2 linked regions of the Homo sapiens genome follow. The protein of the gene in region 2 interacts with the protein of the main gene of each other region in a pairwise test. Each region holds a gene or a part of one and is shown on either strand. Other genes may lie near its edges.

What was found. The genes of interacting proteins can lie anywhere in the genome.
Region 1: the proteins of PACRG (region 2) and MEIG1 interact in binary tests that used the Homo sapiens proteins (3 or more experiments, as listed by UniProt).

Annotation. Positions count from the first base shown.
Region 1 is NC_000010.11:14,969,241-14,972,993, reverse strand, and holds the end of MEIG1 (meiosis expressed gene 1 protein homolog), read right to left. Parts: intron 482-3,753; coding exon 353-481; 3' UTR 137-352; downstream 1-136. UniProt on the Homo sapiens protein: Essential for spermiogenesis.
Region 2 is NC_000006.12:163,059,918-163,063,670, forward strand, and holds part of PACRG (parkin coregulated gene protein), read left to right. Parts: intron 1-2,232; coding exon 2,233-2,404; intron 2,405-3,753. UniProt on the Homo sapiens protein: Microtubule inner protein (MIP) part of the dynein-decorated doublet microtubules (DMTs) in cilia axoneme, which is required for motile cilia beating. Suppresses cell death induced by accumulation of unfolded Pael receptor (Pael-R, a substrate of Parkin).

The DNA of each region.
Region 1 (3,753 bases), on a different chromosome or scaffold from region 2:
CTTGGGAGGCTGAGGCATGAGAATCACTTGAACCCGGGAGGCAGAGGTTGCAGTGAATCGAGATTGCACCACTGCACTCCAGCCTGGGCGACAGAGCGAGACTCTGTCTCAAAATAAAATAAAATGGACAAAAAGAGCAGGACCAAGAAAGTACAACTTTAATGCATCTGCAGCCAGTTCTTAGAACAGGACAAGGTGATTAGCAGATACCAATTCTCATGGCTTTTGTGTTTCACAAAACATTAAACTGCAGACTGCATCTTGAATTATTTCATCAAATGACAAACACATGATGTAGAAGGAAATGATGAATACTTAAAATATAATTGACAAGTAATACAAAGAAGACAGGCTAGTAAGCATAAATTTTCACTTTGTGGACTTCTTTGTCATCACATTCCCTCTGTTTGTTGTAGTAATAGAACGTATTGTCCCTTCTCTGAAGTTTCTTCACATATCCTGTCTCCGGCCAACGATCTACCTGCACATCAAGAACCAGAGTACAAACGTTACAATGGAGGGTTGATTTTTATCTCATATTTTACTATCAAATAGTTAAAAAGTATGACTTACAGAAACAAAGTATAAGATTAGATTTTAGAATGCTTGAGCTTTTAAAGTATGATACCCACAAGACACATCTTACATTGCAGCCTTATGCTGTAAGATAACTAATTCAGGCCGAGTGCAGTAGCTCATGCCTGTAATCCCAGCACTCTGGGAGGCTGAGGCAGGTGGATCAATTGAGGTCAGGAGTTCAAGACCAACCTGGCCAACATGGTGAAACAATGCCTCTACTAAAAATACAAAAATTAGCTGGGTGTGGTGGTAGGTGCCTATAATCCCAGGTACTCAGGGGGCTGAGGCAGAAGAATCCATTGAACTCTGGAGGCAGGGGTTGCAGTGACTCTAGATGGCGCCACTGCACTCCAGCCTGGGTGACAGAACAAGACCCTGCCTCGGAAAAAAAAAAAAAAGACAACTAATTCAGTGCTTTTCTCTAGAGCCCAATTTCTAGGTTTATTTTATTTTGTTTTATTTTGGAGACAGAGTCTTGCTACATTGCCCAAGCTGTCCTGGAACTGCTGTAGTCAAGTGATCCTCCCAGCTCGGCCTCCCAAGTGCTGGAATTACAGGCCTGAGCCACTGCACCCAGCTCCAATTTCTAGATTTAAATTTCAATACTGTGGCCAAGATAAGACAAAACATTCCAAGTAATCTAAACTTCATTTCTCTTATGTTTACAAAAGATTTTAAACATTCTAACTTCTAAAATTAATACCACAGGAGGAAATTAGGGCTAAGCCCAGGCTCCATTTTGTAAGTGCTGCCTGCTGATTGTTGATGAATACACAGTGAATAAAGCAAGCAACTCAAGAACTATCCAAAAGTGTATATGCATTTCCTTCTGCCCCAATTTCAAGTTCACCTTGAAATCCATTTTTTTTTTTGAAACAGGGTCTCACTCTGTCTCCGAGGCTGTAGTGCGGTGTTGTGATCATAGCTCACTACAGCCTCAACCTCCTGGGCTCAGGGGATCCTCCAGCCTCTGCCTCCCGAGTAGTTAGAACTACAGGTAAGCACCACCATGCCCAGATAAGTTTTCTATTTTTCTTTTTTTTTTTTGTAGAGACAGGGTCTCACTATGTTGCCCAGGCTGGTCTCAAACTCCTGGCCTAAAGCAGTCCTCCTACCTTGGCTTCCCAAAGTGTCAAAAATCTTTTTTTTAATTTCTTCTACCATTCTTTATTGTTGTTATTATTATTATTATTATTATCATTATTATTATATGTTGCCGAGGTTGGTCTCAAACTCCTGGTCTCAAATGATCCTCCTGTCTTGGCTTTCCAAAGTGTTGGGATTGCAGGTGTGAGCCACTGTCCCCAGTCATCTCCTACCATTCCTTCTTGTATACCATATTGGTTTATCTACTTTTTCATTTGGCTTGATCTAATTTGGAGATCTGTCTCTCCACTTCCTCTTCAATGTTATCCCTTCCTGGCCAGGTTAATGTATTTCACCACTGTCAAATATGTTCCTTTCAGATTTTGTGAGATGCACTTTATCATAACCAAAAACTCATTATCTAGGTTGTAGAAAACCAAATCCTGCTCTTCAACACCATCTATACAGGCAGTCCTGCACCCTTTCTCCAAATCCTGTTCTTCAACACCTTCTATACAGGTAGTCCTGCACCTTTTCTGTTCCCCATGAATAAATCTCAGCTTTCAGTAGGAAGAGGAGATGAATATACCATCTGTGTCCACATGTCTTTTACTTTCTAATAACACATCTTCATTTTTTGTGTCATCTCATTTACTTATGAATTAGCGAGAATAGGTAACAGCATATCTGAGAAGCCTTGGCAGGCCTTCTGACATACATTACAGAAAACCAGCAGTCCTTTCCACCACTGAGGCCACACCTGCCTGTGTGGCTTCCAATACCTTTGGCAGGGAAAGGAGGTGTTCTCAAGACTCCATTACAGCCCTCTTCCCTCCTGGGGCCAGGAGCAGATTATCTGAAAGCCATCTGATCCGGTGAGAAAACAGTACAACCAATGCCTCTTCCGAACATCTGGAGCTGAGCTACTTGATATGGGACAATCCTTAGGACAGCTAAGTTGCTCCTTTGCTTGTTGACTTCTAGACATTTTTCCTTTTGATGTCCCTTGGCATCTCTGAACTTTCTTTTCTTCTTGACTTTCAACTTGATCATTTCCATTTGATCTGGGAAACTTTCTTGCCTGTGGTGGAATGGAATGAGATCCTCAAGTTCAAGGACTTTCCCCTCAGGAGGGAAGGTCAGCAAGCACTATACCACCAGGTAATGAAAAACAGCTTCTCTCAAACCTCAAACCACTGCACACTGGGAGAAACATCCCACCCAAAGCAAGCCTTCAGTCACCATCCTATCCGTCCCTGAAGACCCACTGCAAATGCCACTGGGGACACTAAGCCCTCTCTGGGGATTGTCCCTGGAAGGAAGTGATTTTGTTTTCCTCTAAATCCCTGTGCTTCTTTTTGTTAAGGAACATATACTTCGATTTGTGTAAGGTTTTATTGTTCTTGTTACTTATTTTAGAATCTAAGATGATGAGATTAATAAAAGGTATCATTTACTAAACACTTGCTGTTCCTTCAGTCAACAAATTTTTTGTGGGGGAGTCTCGCTCTGTCGCCCAGGCTGGAGTGCAGTGGCATGATCTCAGCTTACTGTAACCTCCCCCTCCCGGGTTCAAGTGATTCTCCTGCCTCAGCCTCCCTAGTAGCTGGGATTACATGTGTGCACCACCATGCCCGGCTAATTTTGTGTATTTTTAGTAGAGACAGGGTTTCACCATGTTGGCCAGGCTGGTCTCTAACTCCTGACTGCAGGTGAACGGCCCGCCTCTGCCTCCCAAAGTGCTAGGATTACAGGCGTGAGCCACTGTGCCCAGCCCAACAAATTATGAGCACTATAATGTCAGGCACTTCAAACATGTGATTACATTTAATTCTTGTGACAACTTTCTTTTCTTTTTTCCTTTTTTCTTTTTTTTTTTTTGAGACAGGGTCTTGCTCTCTCACCCAGGCTGGTGTGCAGTGATGTGATCACAGGTCACTGCAGCCTCGATCTCCTGCACTCAAGCAATCCTCCCACCTGAGCCTCCCAGTAGCTGGGACTACAGAGACACTCCACCATGCCTGGCTAATTAAAAAAAGTTTTTTGTAGAAATGGGTTCTCACTATGTCACCCAGACTGGTCTCAAAA
Region 2 (3,753 bases):
AGTCTTAGTAGAAGACTTTTAACTTTATTTATCTCTCACTAAGATAAATTTAAGTTTGGAAATGTTTAAGGTAGCTGCAATAAAATGTTTGAACAGGATGTCTTAGCTTAAAGTCATTACAAAAAAGTAAATAGAACATAGTGTACATAACAAAACTACAAAATACAAAGAAAAAAGTAAATAAAAAACAACAACCGAAGACCAAAAAATAAGATGACAGAAGTTAAATGAGACCATAAATGTCAATGACTTAATGTATTAAAATACAACATCTTAGGCCATAGTAAAATACAAAATTTAATTTTGTGCTTACAAGAAACACTTGTAAAAGTGTGACAATAAGCTAAAAGAATTAGCAAAACATACCAAAAATGTTTTAAAAATATAGTATAGATGACATTTTTATTATGAAATTAGTATACAATGTAAAATTATCCATAAAAACATTGGGCCTTTAGGACCTAAGAAAAAATAATTATTTCAAATTGTACAAAATAATGTTTTAAAACATTTCCAAATGCACATAAATCTCTGAGAAAATATATATTCCATAAATGTATGCTGAATAACATAAATTTTATAAATATAAAAGGAAAGTAAAGTAAAACTGATGTCTGTATAAACCTACATTAGGGATTTGTTTTCTATGCTCCAGTTCCAACAGAGGATCTGGACATTGCCTCTTCCCTGCTTACTTCCTTGATTGGCTGGACTCCCTCTACATCCCCAGCTTCTACCTGAACATGCATTGTAAATGGGAAGTCTGTGAGCAGACTGTAGACAGGCCTGCTGCTTGGGGAACTGTAGGAAATTTGATTCACCCCAACCCACAGTAAACACTCAGGAAGATGATGGGTTCATTACGAGTTACTCACATCCAGGGGTAGGCAGGCATGTGGCGTGAAACTCCAGAATGCTGAGAGAGAGCTGGAAGGTACAAAAATCTCCCACTAAGTGGTATTACAATTTTCGGTTACAAAATCAGAATATCACTTTTTATCCCATAAATATATATTAATATATATATAATGTATGGACTATATATAGGGAATAAATATATGTATAATTTGTCTCTACATAGGGAATATGTATATATGTAATTTATCAATAAAAAATTTGTTAATCTCCTACTAATGTAAAAGGGAGTTTCTCAAAGGTCTTGATGGGCTCCTCACTTGATTAGAAGGTGGTAACTAGAAGCTGGGTGCATTCATAAGGATTTGAAAACCAAGGAAATTATCACCTCTTGCTGGGAAGGCCCCATCCCTTGCTCTGTGTAGATGTATTATACCTGCAGTCTGAGTCTGTGGGCTCATTTCCATGTACACTCTCACCTTCAGCTCTGCCGCCTTGCTGGCAGTAGCTCAGGCCACAGGTACCCTGGACAGTGGAGGGCTCAAGCAAGACCAAATCTTCTACAGGTAGATGATTCCCAACTCACAATCTCTTTTCTCAACCCCAGAGTTTTAGTTCCCATTCCCTGGTGCTGCTGGATGCTACTGCCAAGGTCTGGACAGGGGACATGGAGGGACACTGAGGGTGATGGGTGGAGATGTGGGAAAGAGATTTGTCTCCGCTCCCAGAAGAAGCAGGCAAAGGGAGGTTGGGATGTTTTGACTTTGAGGTGTCAGTGGTCCCAGGTTCAGCCCACTCTTTGTCCTCTCCATTTCTTCTTGATGCCCTGAATGTTCTACCTGTCATCCAGGCTCCAGTGAACAAGCCAGGAATCATGCTTGACCTCTCACTCTCCTGTTTGCCCCAAAGAAGGCATATGCCTCCCAGGAACGTATGAACATGCACTTCTGTAGCTTTCTTCTTAGAACCTTGGGCACCAATCTTTTTCAGCTGTTTTTATTTCTTTCATTTTATTTTTACGTGGATCTTTTCAGCAAACATTCTAGAGGCTTCTTGAATCCTATTCAATATCATACTTGAGCCAAATGGTAACGAATTAACAAAAAGGTAGCAAATTATTAATATGCTGTCAATGTGCATTGTATGTGGATGGGAGATTTAACTGTTAAGGTCTAAAGGTCCATGATTTTAACCTCATTGCTCATTGATTCAGGACATGATGACATACTTCAGGTCATTAGGGGGATGGGTTAAGGAAGTCTTCCTGAAGTTCTAAAGAGCGTGCCCCTCTGGAGTGGGTGACAGCTGCATAGCTTGTCTGCCGTGCTCTGCCCGAATGCTGTTTTCACATGGCGTCTCTTCTTTCTTTACTTTCAGGTAGAAATTGAGAAGCTGGATTACCATCATTATCTGCCTCTGTTTTTTGATGGGCTTTGTGAAATGACATTTCCCTATGAGTTTTTTGCTCGGCAAGGAATCCACGACATGCTGGAACACGGTGGGAACAAGATCCTACCTGTCCTTCCACAGCTCATTATCCCGATAAAAAGTAAGTGAACCGGTGAAAAAGCATCACTCAGTTTATACGGTGTTGCTTTTTGACAACTTGCTAATTAAGCAATAAACCATGACAGACTGAGGTGATCCCCAGTTTTGCAGGAATTTTCATAAATTGACTTAGGAGGCCAGACAACCCAAATCTCCAAAAATATATCCCATCATCAATATTTCACTATGGCTTAGCCACATAAATAAACCAAATTCCATGGGGTTTGTGCTAATTTAAAATGCCTCACAGTAATGACATAAGCATTAACATTAACTTACGCATCCAGAGGTCTTTACCTGCTGCTGCTAACTTCCAAGTCTTTTTTTTGTAAATGGCATCTCTAATTTTTAAATTATAAACACCGTTATGTTGAGTATATTTGAGGTAGTACCATTCATAATTTTAAGGAAGGGAAGCCCAGCTGCATAGGTGAAAAGAAGAATGTTTTTAAATACCTGAAACTTTTAATCTACAATAGGTAAGCTGGGTGACTCTGGGGTAGCCCTGTGATTGGCTTTGTCTGTGAAATGAGATTGTCCTTCCTTTCTGCATGCACCTTGCTCACAACATTGCACGGCCCCTTGGACTGGTTGTCTAAGAACCTGAGGTTGTCCCACGTGACAGCCTTCTGGGGTTCCAGAACACTCTCTGGCCATTCTTACCTTGCTGCCAGTAGAGCCACCCTGATGGGCATGCCTGGCATCCACTGGTACAGGCTCAGGAAGAGGATGGCCTCTCCTCAAGTCAAGGTGGCAGGGCTGGCCCCTCTCACCCTCACCAGCACATCCCCTCCCCAGCCCCAGAATTGCCCACCTGTCCTGCATTGCTACTGCTGCTACTGCTACTACTAATTAAAAGCAGAGGATCAGTGCCTCCTCTGAACACTCATTCTGCAGATGAGGGAGACCCTACCTTTTTCTCAGCCAGAGCTGCTCCAGGCACTTTCACCCCCTGGATCCAGGCCCAACTGCCCATGGCTTCGAGGGGTGAGGAGGCCCCTGCTCCCCCCGCCCCAAGTTCTACCTCATCTTCCACTCCAGGATGGGCAGCTTCCCAAAATGATTGACAGGACGCTTAGCTAGTCTTCTAGGTTGGGGAACCCCACCCTCACTGGCTCAGGTGAGCTCTTGCCGTGTGCTTTCATCAGAACAAGAACAAACTAGCTCAACATAGGGTCATCTCCCAGAGTCTGGATTATTTAATCGTATCCAAGGTCACCATTTTTATTCATTCATTCGAATTTATCCATTCATTCAAATGTATCATGATCAAAATGCTAGATTTCCACAGTTCTGCTCTTACTGCTTGCATCAAATCAACTCTGAAACTCTCCCTCAGATCTTTGAGGT